Homo sapiens: one gene and its partner. The protein of the gene in region 1 interacts with the protein of each later gene in a pairwise test. Each region holds a gene or a part of one and is shown in the gene's direction. Other genes may lie near its edges. The genes, in order: VANGL1 and CD82.

Region 1 (7,272 bases):
GTCACTTGCAAGCAAATATACATCACATAACTCCAGACATGTTAACGATTCACACCTCTTCAGAAATCTGTACCCAGCTGCTGGAGGTGTTTCAGGGGTAATTAATGACTGGAGCCAAGAGAAGTTATTCTGGCAAGGTGAGTTGAAATCATTGGCGAAACAAGTAAAACAAAGTTGACATTTTCTTTCCTTGTAAATAATGACCCAGAATCATTCATTTATAAGCTGTTGTAATAAAAGAATCATTGGGTTTGTCACAAATGCCATAAGCCCAGCAGATCCTCACATCAGTGACCTGCATGATGTTTGGTGGTTTATAGGCCACAAGTTCAAAATGTTTTATAGATTTGCCCTGCATCTCTGCCCGCTCCTTTCCAGCCCATGCCCCTCCAAATAAACCCACTAAAACACACACGGTTTCCTCTGGTCTCTCTGACATTTGCTTCCAACCTGGGGATGGTAAATAGAGGCCTGTAAGAAACAGAATAGAAATCACTTGTTACTCAGCTATAGCTAATAGTAGCAGTTAAAGGTGGTAGCAGAGACCAGAAAAATGTGTATAAGTTCAGTGAAAATGATACAGAAGTTATATGCCATACAACCCCTTCAGTTCTTCCTAACTGAAGGAATTTTACTCTAGTGAATACTAGTAGTAGTTGACAGCTGTGAGTGCCTACCACGTGCTAGGCACTGTTCTAATAATTTTTATGAATTATCTCATTTAATACCTACCACAGATCTATAATATAAGTAAAATAAAATCTGTTGTTACAGTTAGGGAAACTGAGGCAGAGAGCAGTTAAGTAACTTGTTCTGAGGTCACACAGCTAAGTACTAGAGCCAGGATTTGAATGCTCTTCACCCACAATTTGGGCTCATTGCTACTCTCTAGAAGAATAGTTGACTCTAAACAAAATTATTTCAATTGTCACTTTCCCCTTGAGTGCCATTTAATTAAGAATGGGTACCCCTAAGAAGAATGTTAGCTTCAAGACATAATATAAATAATAATTAATAGCATAATCTCTGCAGAATTCTATGTAAAAATCAAATATTCAGAATAATATACACAGCATATATAAGCATGGTTGTACCAGACACCACTTTTCCTTGGAAATAGATCTACTTACTGCATAGGAAGCAAAATCTCTCTTTAAATTCAGTGCGTGTCTCTGTAACCCTTACAAAGTAACTTTCCAAACCAGAGCTCCCTTAATTACTTAATAGCTCTAGGCAGAGCTGTTGATGTTTTTATAATTTCCTTTTTGCGAAGGTTAGCTTATGTTTACCACTGTCATTATCATAACATATTATTTCCTTCATACGATTTGCTAAACACTGTGTTTTCATATTAAGTAGTAGGATTTTTATATGAGTGAACATGACTTTAGGAGAGAATTCTGTTTGAGGCTGATTATCTTCATTTTGCTTTTGATAAAGGGTGGTGAAGGAGGTTCTTTCTGACATTTTTGCCTAGGAAGTCCAGAATTTAGGACACTGCCACTTAGAAGCACTCTGTGCACCTATCTCCCATTGTTGACCTTGCCTGCATGCAATGTGGTTCAATGAGCCTGGCCGTGTCCTAATATTTGCCTCCAGCCCCTACCCAAGCAGTGCCAAGCAATACACTCTTAAGGGGTGGGTGACCGGTGAGGCAAGATGCTCTTGGGCAGTGGCTGAAAGAGGCTGCTGCTGATTTTTACTCAGTGTGTCTGGCATACGAACTCTGCCCCTGAGTGGGACTGCCATGCGAGCCAGTAGTATAGCTTTTTTTTTTTTTTTTTTGATAGTTCTGGTATCACGCCTCTATCTAATATCTGCATCTTTTTTTTTGCCACCTCTAAAACTAAGGATTTAAAATAGATAATTTCTAAAGTTTCTTCCACAATGAATCTATGGCCTCATGTCCTAAGATCTGCCACAAAACCCTTCATTCAGCAGACATTTATAGGGTACCCATAATGTCCTAGGAGCTGGAAAGACAGGCAGTCATGAAAGTGCCTCTGCCCTCATGGAGCTTACAGCCTGTGAAGAAACTAGACAATAAGTGATCACACAAACAAATGTATCACTGGAAGTTGGATAGAAAGGAAGAGTACAGGGTACTAGAGAAGAGCCTGACTGAGATTGAAGGATCAGGAAAGGCCTCTTGAAAGGAGCAGTATTTAAATTAAGGAGTGATGAGTAGGAATTTGGCAAAACAGGGCATGTAAAGGGTGAGTACCAACAGATATACTGGGCTCTGCCAAAGCCCTAAGACTCTACCTTAAAGGAGCTGGGGCTAGAGAAGGAGGAGGGAGCTAGAGCGTCGGGCAGGACATTGCATACCAAATGAAAGATTTTTGTATTTTATTTAAAGTGCAGTGGGACACCACGGAAAGGTTTTAAACAGGGAAGTGACGTCTGCATTGTAATTTAAAAGGTCACTCTGGCTGCTGCCCAGCCTGGGCCAAACACAATATGAGTCATGTCAGGGGTCAGTATGATAGACAGTTCCAGGTTCTAGGAGCCATATTCCCACCTTTATATGACTGTCCTATTCATGCTGCTGTGACAGCCTATCAGTGTATTACCCTGGGAACCTGATTCCTTTTCATTGCTTTATTGTCTTTTCTGATAAGGGATTCCTTCTGACCTTATCATGAGTTTGGTTAATTTCTTGTGTATGCAAGGGAACTATCTCATAGATATATCATTGCAGTGGTAAGCTTCAGGATATCCTTTTCCATTAAGTCTGTTGAAGTTCTTACCTTGGCTCAGACTCTTTTAAAATAAGTTCACTTCGGATTTTATTAGTTTGCCTCTTATTGCATCCTCTTAGTCCTCACTCAGATCTTGGATAGGATAAGAGTTGGTAACTATTAGAAACGGTATGACTTAGAAGGGGCCTGAGCTGTGTATAGGCTGGTGAGGACACCTGGAGGCTTTGTAGTGGTCTAGCCCTGTGTAGGTGGAGCCTGGAGGAAGTGGGTGGCTGTGAATCAGTAGAGTGAAGGGAGGATCAGAGAGGGTGTTGAAGGTGGCACAGGGTTAGATCCTTAGGATGAGGGTATTGCTTTAGCTGAGGAATTGGGAAGAACAGGACAGGATACTGGAGAGCACCTATGAGAGGGATGATGGTATTCCCAAGGGGAGCAAGAGGAATCTCAGTAGGAAATGTGCACTTGGGATTTAGTCTTTCAGTAAGTATTTGTTGGGTACCTGCTATGTTCAAAATATCCTGGGTGGAGGTAAGACGTAGTTGCTGTGTTCAAGGAGCTTCTGCCATAGGAAATCTGTGGATGGAGAAGACTGAGAAGAGTTTTGAATGTCAAGGGATAACGTGATGAGGGGAGAGGAGAGGGAGTGTTAGAGGAGAAGTAGTAACATAAGCGGCATCAAATTGGAGGCTAGCCAGCTGCAGAGAAACTCTGCTAGGGCAGGCAGCATGCCTTTGTCATTGCTGTGCCCTAGCATTGCCTAGCATGGTCTTGTAGGTGCCACTTAATATGGAGGTGGATGGACTAATAAATGAAATAAAAAGCACTGGGGGAGGAGGACAAGGATGTTACTTGGCTCATAGCAATCCTTGGCCAACTTTGAGTTGTTTCAGTGGAGTGTTGTGGATGGAGATTTGGACTGAAAGTGGAGAAGGAGGGAGTGACAGCATGTATAGACCACTCCTTTGGTAAGTACAGGAAGGAACCATGGGAGGGAAACCAGACTAGGGTGGTTGGTAGAGTTAGATAAAGCCTTTCCCTGGAGGGCAGTTGGGACCCATGGTTTCCTTTGAGGGACAAGCCTGGAGTTGTCTTAATGAATGGCCACAAGTTTTCAATGAGGACAAGGAATGAAGTCCTCTGGCAGAGGGGGAAGGGAATAAAACTTGGGTTACCATGTGCCAGAGACTTTACCTTTGCAGTTTCATTTAATCCTCACAAGAACCCTGGGAAGAGAGAGTATTAAATGACCTCATTTTTATGGGGCAGGGTTGGATAAGCTCAGAGAGGCAAACATTTGCCCCCTGATGTCACAGCTAGGAAGCACCAAGCTGGATCTGCCCACATCTGCGGGGCCTGGGCCACCTGCCTCTGAGACACTCCAGCAGCATTTAGCAAAAAGTAGCTGGAAGTTGGGATGGAATGGGGAATCCAGAGTTATGGGTTGCAAGGCAGAGTGTAGGAGTTGTGAAGGGTTAATTATGAATCTAGAAGAGAGTGGGAAATCGGTGTTCTGGGCCAGGGAACTGGACATTTGAATCTGCAGATCAGCAGAGGCTGGGTGAGGGGCTTTCAGGGAGGATCTCAGTTCACTCAGGGCTGGAGATCTTCGAAGCACATCCTAATGTTGACGTCTGCCTGTTATGAAGCAGGTGAGAAAACAGCAAAGCCCAGGGCAGAAAGGAAGTGAGACTGAGGTGTTGAAAGCTGATTGAAATTGCTAGTGAAAATGGTGGAGACAGTAGGCAGAAAAAAAGATGACTCAGCCCTTGAAGTCTTCTAGGAAAGTAGGGTAAGTCCAGGAGCAAAACTTAGCATTTAAAAAAGGCCTGCTGTGTTTTCACATTTAATCTTTACAGCTACCTCCCCCCACAAACCCCCACCATAATAGGCTGCCTTGCTTCCTTTTTATGGATTGGGAAGTCTCTGAGGCTCCAAGGAGAAACTGCTTTGCCCAGGTGTACAGCTAGTTAGTAGGCAGCGGACTGAGATGTGTGCTCCGTTCTGTCTGACTGCAGGTGAGCCTTGTGGCAGGAAGGCCGGCACAGAGACTCTGCTCTGCTTCTTTCCAAGCATTTCTCTCATTAAAAAGACAGAGGAACAAGCATTTCGGAACCCGCAAAGAGAGTGCTGATAGACAGTGACTTTCGTTTACCTAGCACATCTGGAGCTCGCGCTGGGTGCCTTCATAGTTGTTAGCTCATTTGGTCTTCACGGCAACCCTGATATTTGCATTTTACAGTTACATGTTCAAAGAGGTTTACTAATTTTGACTGGGGCCTGATAGCTAATAAGTGAGTAAAACCCGAGATTGGAACCCACCTTTGGAAACTGTGTCTGCTTATATTTTCAGATCTACCTGTGAGGTCGGTGGCTGGTTGGTTTACCCTGTTTAACAGATGAGGAAACTGAGGCATAAGAAAGCAAGTGGCTTATCCCAGGTTGTACTAAACAGTGGCTGGGCTCAGACTAGAACTCAGGTTTCCCCAGGGCTAGCCTTGGGCTCCTGATGGCAGAGGAGAAGTGAAATGGTAAGTCAGGGCATCAGGGACAAAGGAGGCTGGCCCTGGGTGGCAGACCTTGGAAGTGATCGTACCTGACTCCCAGGAAGAATGAATGGTAAGGGTAAATACACCCTAACTGGGATTAGAGGCTGTGGGGGCTGTATTGGTGGTGTATGGCAATTTGTGCTGACCTGATTCCCTCCAGACTTATGTGTTGTTGCTGGGGTCAGGGAAACTTGGCCTCCTCCCAGGAGGGTTAGGGTATGGCATTTACAGCTCCTTTGTTTTTTCTTCACACTTATCTCACTGGCTGTGTTTGCAGTTTCAGCTTCCAGCGGCTGGAAGAAGGAACCCTGTTGAGCTGAGACTAGCTCTGGGGTGAGGGGTGCAGAAAGAGACAGAACTTGTGGATCTCGGTTTTCTAGAAGTAAAAATTTTAGCATGTGGGAGCTCAGGAATGTACTTGGAAATGTTTCCAATTTATTTTTATTGCAAAGCAATATCTAATGAAAATGTGGGAGAAGACCCAGGAGCCTGCAAATAATAAATTGCCTGCTTTCATTTTCTGTGTCTCCTTTTAAAAATCTTTGTCCTTACATAAGCAATTTTATACAATTGTAACTGTAATGTTGGTTCACTGTGTATCAACAATACTGTATCCTGCTTTTAAAATTCATCATTATAAGAGTTTCTATTCTTTATAATGATCATTTTAAACATATGTGATACTTTTCTGGTGGATGAACCATGTTTTCCTTACCTATTCCTGTATTCTGGGGGCATTCAGATTGTTTCTAGCATTTTATTATTTATAGACAATGAGACCACAATAATTTTTCTTTAAAAAAGAAATCAGTTCCCTCAGATAAATTCCCAGAAATTCGGATCCTAGATCAAAAAGATTGAAGATCTTTTTTTTTTTTAATTGACTTTTGGAAATTATGACCAAATCCCTTAAAAGCAACTTCGCTGGGTATTGTTTTTTTAACCAGCAAACTGGCAGTGGGGGGCTGGGCATTGTGTGGAGGGTCGCAGATGTGGAAAGCCACCTCCTAAAGCCAGTGAGCAGGGGTCAGGTCATCCTGAGGACGTGGACAAGTGCCTCCCATTTTCCTGCTGCTGTGGTAGGGGTTCAGCTTGCTCAGCGCCTATCCTGTCTCCCTCCCAGACACCTGGGAAAACTGGTTGCTGCATGGGTGGAGCATTTACAGTTCAGTTGCTTCACCCTCACTCGCTTGTTCCATGATAGAGACCCCAGAGAGGAGGTGTGGCTTTGTCATTTATCTTTCAGCCCCATTAAGGTTGGCTCTGAAGATTAATGTCTTTTTTTTTCCCCCTCTTTCCCAGAATTTGTTCCTGTTGAAGAGTGGCTCCTCTTCTAATTTCCAGACTCCTTGAGGTTTTAGGAGTCTGGTAGGTGAAATTTTCTACCTCTAAGGAGAAACAGTACCTGCTCCTTCCTCAAGCGCAAGCCCTCCATTGCTATGGATACCGAATCCACTTATTCTGGATATTCTTACTATTCAAGTCATTCGAAAAAATCTCACAGACAAGGGTATGTAAGTTGTTCATTATTACACTTTTCCTTTTGGGGAAACCTACAGGTTGGTGGGGTTCTCTACACTCACTTTTCAGTGACTCAGCGCTGGACATTTGGTCGGTTGGTGCATGAGAAGCTGAGCTTTAAGAGCATTTAACATTCTTGGGAGTAACTACGTCACCAGTTTACATTTTATAGCCACCATTAGAGTTGATGACTTTAGTTTCTCACAATTGGTTTTAAATTAAAGTTTCTTCCTGCAGTGGAAATGTTTTTCATTTCTAGGTATTTCTTTTTTTTTTTTTGAGACGGAGTCTCGTTCTGTCACCCAGGCTGGAATGCAGTGGTGCCATCTCGGCTCACTGCAAGCTCCGCCTTGTGGGTTCACGCCACTCTCCTGCCTCAGCCTCCCGAGTAGCTGAGACTACAGGCGCCCACCACCACGCCTGGCTAATTTTTGTATTTTTAGTAGAGACGGGGTTTCACCTTGTTGGCCAGGATGGTCTCGATCTGACCTTGTGATCCGCCC
Region 2 (7,272 bases), on another chromosome or scaffold:
CTCAGTGCTTAGGGGAGCAGATTAAAAACGCAGGTCCTTGGCCTCCTGCTGGGAGCGTCTTGGTCGGGTTGTAACGGACTCAAGCATCTGCATCCCTAAGAGGCTCCTCTGATCCACACTACTCTCCAGCCTTCTGGAGACGCCAGCACCCTCGCCCTCCAGGTGCGTCCCATGCCCTGGGGGTACAGTGTACCCATGCTGGTGAGTTAGAGATGACATGAGCTTTACCCTGTGTGATGGGTTGGGTGTCTTAGGAAATGTTGGCCAAGTGCCCCTGCAGGACTCCTGACCTCTACCTCCCGGAATGGGCCTGTCCACAGGTAGCTCTAAAGAGGGTCTTAGCCATCAGGCCCATTCCTGTACCTCCTAAGCATCATTTCCTCCCGGGCTTCTTTCTTGCTCTCACTGGTCCGTTCTCTCACCTTCTTTCCAATCTTCAAATAACCAAGCTCCTCCTTCCTCAGGCCTTTGCACCTGCTGTGTTCCCTGCCTGGAATGCTTTTCTTACAGATCTTTGCTTGGCTGACTTCTTCATTCATGTCTTGGCTCAAATGTCACTGGCTCAGGCTGGCCTTCGTCGACCCATTCTGACCCTCTCCCAGCCCAGCAGTTCTCTGCAGTTAGCCAGCTTTGGTATCTTCATGGCGCCCAACACAACCAGAAAACCTGTATTGTGTACTTTTTGTCTCCACTCCCCACCCCCAAATGTCAGACCTTGTTAGTCACTCTTCTGCATCCCCAGCAACTGGCACAGTGCCTGGCATGAAGTGGGCACCCAGTAAACATTTCTTGGCCGAATGAACATGCAGCACACCTGTAGCAATACATGTGCCCCGTGCATCAGTGGAAAGAGTGTGGCACTGGAGATTTGCATATTTTCAAATTCCAGCTCAGGCCCTTGCCTGTTCGCCTTTCTGAGCCTCATTTTTTTCTTCTGTGAAATGGCCATGCTAGTGCCTGCCAGGCAGGGTGATGTCAGAGTTGGAGACGGCGTGTGGAAAGCCCATGAGGCACAGTGAGTGGGCAAGAAAGGCTGGTGTTTGTTATTATATGGACAAGAAGGAAGGCGGGTTAAAAATCAGCTTGGAATCTTAATGTCAGTGGCCCCTGGAGAACCAGCCAGCCTCTTGTCTGTCAATTCCGCAGATATTCACTGTGCACAGCACCTCACTGCGAGAGGCGCTGTTCGAGCTGGGGGTTCCCCAGGAATAAAGTGAAGCTTCTGCCCTCATGCACCTCAGGTCCTTGGTGGAGGGGGAGAGCAGACAATGAGCAAGAAGAATCAGTGAAATGTAGTCTATTCAATCCTGAGAAGCCTTACGAAGTAAAAAATAAAGCCGGGAAGGGGCTTAGGCTGGATGAGGGTGTGGATTGCAATTTTACTGGGGGAGGGACACAAGTGGGGATGGGGGTGACCTGGTTCCCTGTTGGGCAGTGAGAAGCCAGCAGGGGAATGCAGCTGACCCCAACACCCTGGCTCCAAAGAGGGGATCCGGAAGAAGACCTGGACGGTTAGGCCAGGTGTTTATACCTGCTGTGCCCACTGATTTTGTACTTCTTCTTCCCCCTAGAAACCTCCTCCAGCTCGCTTAGGATGGGGGCCTATGTCTTCATCGGCGTGGGGGCAGTCACTATGCTCATGGGCTTCCTGGGCTGCATCGGCGCCGTCAACGAGGTCCGCTGCCTGCTGGGGCTGGTGAGTACGGATCCCTCCGCAGCTGCCTGCCCATTTCCTCTCATCCAGCCGAGTGCAGCCTGACCGCGGCGCTGGCCGTAACATCGGGTGGAGAGCATCTCTCGGGGCACGCAGGCTGGGTGCACCTGGTCGGGGACCCTCAGCTGACTTTGTGCCTGCTCTGTGTCCCCAGTACTTTGCTTTCCTGCTCCTGATCCTCATTGCCCAGGTGACGGCCGGGGCCCTCTTCTACTTCAACATGGGCAAGGTAAGCCCCTCTCTCCCTCCCTCTTCACTGGGCTGGACCAACCATGGGGGTGATTGACTGAGTGTGGGGGATGGACAAGGAACCCCCCCAGTTGTCACAGACAGATCCAGTAGGTGTCAGGGACGGCCTCCTGGACACTATTCCTTGTGATCAAATGGGGGAGCGTTAGAAGAGAAGGCGGCAGGTGTGGGCAGTCCCCGCTGGGCCTGGATCTTAGCCTGACCCCCCTGCTTTCTAGCTGTGTGGCCTTGGGCAAGCTGCTTGCCTCTATGTGCCTGTTCCACCATCTGTAAAATGGAAACAATAAGAAAACTGAACTCTCAGAGTGGTTGCAAAGATTATTCGAGATTATCTGAGTGAAACACATAGCGCATGGCACCATAAGTACTCAATAAATGTTATTCTTGTTATTATTAAGATACTTTAGCAACTATTAAATCCATGCCACTCACCCACAAATGAGGTTTAGAAGGAGACCGTTAATAAAAACATCAGTCTTGTGTCCGAGGGGAGATGTTCAGCTTTCAGAAACAGAAAATCAGACTTACAGCGGCTTAAAGTTGAAGGACATCTGTGGTTGACTTGACCGGAAGTCTGGTTTGGAAGCTCAGAGGCCCTGGTTCTGGCTGTTGAGCATCCTCGCTGGGATGGCTTTCCTGCATTATGACACTTACCTCGTGGTTCCAAGATGGCTGCCACAGCACCAGGCACGATGTCTGTGCCGCTGTGGCCTGAAGATGGGGAAGTGGGCAGTGCCAGACATGGCCATCCCTTTTATCAGAAAAGGCGCAGTGGCTCATGACTGTAATCCCAATACTTAGGGAGGCAGAGGTGGGAGGATTGCTCTGAGACTAGCCTGGGCAACATGGTGAGACCCCATTTCTACAAACAAATTTTTAAAAATGCTAGCCATGGTGGTGTTCACCTGTGGTCCCAGCTACTCAGGAGGCTGAGGCAGGAGGATCCTTGAGGCCAGGAGGTTGAGGCTACAGGGAGCCATGAAACAGAGCTTGGGGCAACAGAGTGAGACCCTGTCTCAAAAAAAAAAAAAAAAAAAAGTCCTCCAACAGACTTCCCCAGACTGGGTTACAAAGCCACCCCTGGTTGCAAAAGAGGCTGAGAATGTGAGTATCCAACTTTCAGACTCTAAAGACAGAGGCACAAGAGAGAAAGGAGCCAAGAATGGCTGTTGGGTGAGCCAGTTAATTGTGAGTCACAGTTATCACGTAAGAAGCACCTACTGTGTGCACGTGGGATCTTCTAGAAACTTTCCATACAGCGTCTTGTCCTCACAATGGCTCTGCAGGGTTTTATGTTGACAGATGGAGAAGCAGATGCTCTGAGATGAAGAGCAATAACAACATAGATAACAGTGACTCTAACACCCACCATCCCTCCAGTTGAGTCCATGCACAGCATATACCAAGTACAGTGTTGACCACGTTACACTCCTCCTCTCGCAGATCCTCACTAGGCCCTCTCAAGGTCGTGGGAGAATCCCCGTCCTGCAGATGAAGGAGTAAGGACAGCCTAGGCTCCCTGACTCCGAGTCCTGAGTTCACCCGTCCCCAGACCCTGCTGCACATGGCCTGTGGCCTAGCAGACCCTTAGGGTCCCTGCTTCCAGTGCCACCAGTTCTTGTCCACCAGGGAGGGTGGCAGAGCCGGCAGCCAGATAGGCTCCTGCCCTTCACCACTTGAAGGTCAAGTTGCCTGAGATCCCTCTTGGAAGGAAACTGAGAAAACACTATACCAACATCAACATCAACAAATAACATTTAATAGAACTTAGAACTTAATGGAACTTCACAAGACAAGATACTCTTGGTAGCTAAGGGCTAACTTGGGCACTGAGCTTCCTGGCAGTCAAGGCAAAAGTGGAAAATAGTGGATTTTGTAGATGAAAAGCAGCTTGTTTGGCTGTGAGACAGGAAGCCAGCAGTTAAGGGAGGGAAATTCCTTTCCCAGAAAAATGGTCATGGGGTCAGGTCTTCATTTCTGTCCTATGGCACTGAGCTTCTTTAGGACCTAGTTAGTGATATAATCAGGGTGGATTAGAACCAGGCCCCAGTGAGCCGGTTTCTATGACTCAGAAGCTGGTCGCCTCTGCAGGGATCTTGGGCAGTCCACCCTATGTGATTCACCATCTCACAGTAATAAATATGGCCCACCAGGTTGGCACCAACCACATGCCAGGAGCTGAGCTAGAAAAGTGAGCTGCAATACATGTTCAAATTTACAAACATTTTCCATTTGAAGAAACTGAGGCCCAGGAAAGCAAAGTGACTTTCAGCCACTGACACACACAGCTTGGATGCATCAGAGTGGGGATTTCCATCCTGATGCCTTGGAGTCCAAGGCCCATGCCTCCCTATCCACCACGCTGCCCTCCCGCCGGCTGGGTAACTCTGCTTGGCTGATAATGAGGAGCTTAGCCTCAGAGGTGTCCTATCAGCCCCAGAACAGGACTTGTTTGGAGATTTGGGTTTCTCGACCCCAGCCAAGCTCTGTGCATTGCACCCCCTGCCCCTGTCTTCCCCTTCAGAGTCCACACCCCCTAGTCCCAGCCTGCCTCACCTTAGTCCACCACCATCTTTTCTGGAAGGCAGGGGGAAATTTTCTGGCTTTGCTGAAGAAGTTCTGGTGCCACTGTATCGCCCGAATTGGAATGAACAATATATTTTTTTCTTTCGCAACGCATCATAAATCTCAGTGGAAGACTAAACATACTCTTGATGTGTTTATTCTGGCAGACAAGGCTCAGCGTGGGGGTGGGACTTGTTTGAACCTAAGGAAAAGAAAGGCCTTTTGAAAGGAGATAGGGCTCCCGTGCAGGTGGGTGGGAGTGACCCTGCTGTGGTCTCCAGGGCTGCCCTCTGTCCTTCCTGCCTCTGTCACCCGCAGCCACTCTTCTCAGGGCAGCGATGGGGAGGTTGGGGACCTTGGCATGGCCTGTCACCTCTGGAGCCTTGGGTTCTGCTTCTATAAATTGAGAATAAATCTGCCTCTCCCTGCTCTACCACTCAGGTTGAAGTGAACACAGACTGTGACACTTCTGTGAAAATGCAGAATGGTGTCCAAGGGTCTTGACTGTGGAACCACTGCTCTGACATTCTGGGCATGCTACTCAGCCTCCCTGTGCCTCAGTTTCCACATTTGTCAAACTAGTAACAATATAGGCCCACTGTCCCTTCTCTGCAATTCTGAAATCCAAAGAAACACTTTAAAAACCAAAAGTAGCATTTGCAACTAATTTGGTGGCAAAATTGAACCTGAACAGAAGCAAGGCTATGTATGGCCTTTGCCTGCCCCATTCGGGTGTCCCTAGGGAAATAGAAATGAGACTCACTGCAGGCTGCTGCCCCAGCCCCCACTAGTGGGTGTGATCTGTCCCTCCAGGCCCTTTCTAAAATCTGATCCTGTCTCGAGCCGGAGCCCCCAGGGGCTGCCTTGCAGCACTTCAGAGATGAAGAGCACTAACAAACGGGAAGGGCGTCGTGCGGCACTCAGCCGGAGGCTGATGTTGCTGGCATCATTGCCAGTGTTTATTATTATTGCCGCCATTATTCACTTCATGAAGGCCTGGTAAGGGCTCAATAGGTGGCAGCTGTTCCTGCTGCCCTCGTTGTCAGCAGAGCAAGGGCTGCGGGAATGGGGATCTGGGCACGGTGCTAAGATCCTCATCTGCTTGTTTATCCAGCCTCTGGTGAGCAGAGCCCAGCCCTGGGATTCAGGGGCCCTGTGTTTTAGTGTGGGCTCTGCCGCTGATTGCTGTGTGGCTTCGGATAAGTTACCCAGACTCTCTGATCCACAGGCGAGCTCTTGGGCCATGCCCAGTGCAGGCAGTCAGGGATTCTGACTTGTTCTCTCTAGAGAGTGGAGGTGGGAGGAGTGAGAAGGAAGTGAATGCAGTTTGCCCTTTCCTGTGGTGTGTGGGTGCTGAGCTGGGTGCACTTGGCAGGCCATACCTGTGCCAGGGAGGCCCCTGAGGCTCTGAGTGCTGTCACGCTCAAGCAGAAGACATTGGAGGGGAAGGGGCTCACTTGGCCTGGCTGGGAGCCAGAGGTGGGGGCTGTGACAGTGGCAGTGGCTGGCCAGACAACTCCCCAGAGATGTTGGTCAGGGGAACTGTGACTTCCTTCTTGTCCTCCTTGCTCTCACCCTGAAAGCCCCAAATTGTTGGTGCGCACATACCCTCATGTGTGAGACACAGGTGGCGAGACGGGTTCCTAGGGGACAGTGTGGTTCTCTGTGAACTGTCTGCTTGCTGAATTAGAACTTCCTGATTCTCTGGCTTGGGGTTCTCTTGCGATGGGGCAGAGGGAGGAAGAGCAGCTGGAGCCTGGGACAGGGAGAGGTGACCTTTCTCTCCCCTGTTGAGAAGGGAATGGAGGAGTCCAGGCTACCCCTCTGGAAAGGGATTATGGAAAGACACTTGGGCTAGAATCTCTGAAGCACACGCTGGTCACTGGCTCTGCATTCTGGGGTAGCTAATTACGTGGATTGCAGCTGGACTTGCAGAAAAGATGCAGGAAGCGCCCTCATTTCCTATCAGGGTACTGGGATGCAGCCTCTGAGCTGGTGTATCTGTATTCTAGCAAAGCATTTGCCAACATCTCATGTGGGAAACCTGGAGAGGACAGGAAGATGTGGGTCCAATTCATGCATTTATACCTTATTATAAGGGGCTATTTCACACCTTAAAGAGCATGGCAAGAGGTCTGCACAGCACCCCAAGGGGCGGGCACAGGAGCCCGAAAAGTTACCCTGGAGATGTAGTCTAGTCTCAAGTATCTGGATGACATGTGTCCTTCGAGAGAGGGATTTGATTTGTTCCTGTGGTCCTAGCTGGGACTTGGGTAGCTGAGAGAGGAGGAGGATGTGAACTAATACAAGTGGGTAGAAGTCATTTGAGCAGAACTTAAATTGTATCAGAGCCTCTCAACTCCGCAACATGCTATTGTGTGAGGTACTGACTTCCCCATCGCAGGGAGCATTTAAGCAGAGCCTAAAAAAGCATGACTCTTACATTTGGATGATTTGCTGGACGCAAAGGTCTCTCCTAACTCTGACTCTGTGAAAATTCACACTAAAAGAGAAGTCAAAGCTCAGCATTTGGGTGGGACGTGAGTAGAGCCATGCAGAGGACAGCAGGGTCATGGGGAGGCCCTGGGCAGCTTGCCGAGGCTAAGATCCCGGGTCCCTGGAGCTGCACAGATCAAGGTCTGGTCATGTCTCTGCTGCTTTCTATCTATGTGATCTTGGGAAGTTGCTCCAACTCTGAGCCTCATTTTTCTCTTCTGAGAAATGGGGAGGAGGGAGACAGGGAA

What was found.
Region 2: the proteins of VANGL1 (region 1) and CD82 interact in binary tests that used the Homo sapiens proteins (3 or more experiments, as listed by UniProt).

The regions. Positions count from the first base shown.
Region 1 is NC_000001.11:115,644,727-115,651,998, forward strand, and holds part of VANGL1 (vang-like protein 1), read left to right. Parts: intron 1-6,550; 5' UTR 6,551-6,687; coding exon 6,688-6,758; intron 6,759-7,272.
Region 2 is NC_000011.10:44,603,487-44,610,758, forward strand, and holds part of CD82 (CD82 antigen), read left to right. Parts: intron 1-931; exon of another isoform or gene 932-972; coding exon of another isoform or gene 973-1,015; intron 1,016-1,021; exon of another isoform or gene 1,022-1,244; intron 1,245-1,531; exon of another isoform or gene 1,532-1,571; coding exon 1,572-1,696; exon of another isoform or gene 1,697-1,851; intron 1,852-1,868; coding exon 1,869-1,943; intron 1,944-7,272. UniProt on the Homo sapiens protein: Structural component of specialized membrane microdomains known as tetraspanin-enriched microdomains (TERMs), which act as platforms for receptor clustering and signaling.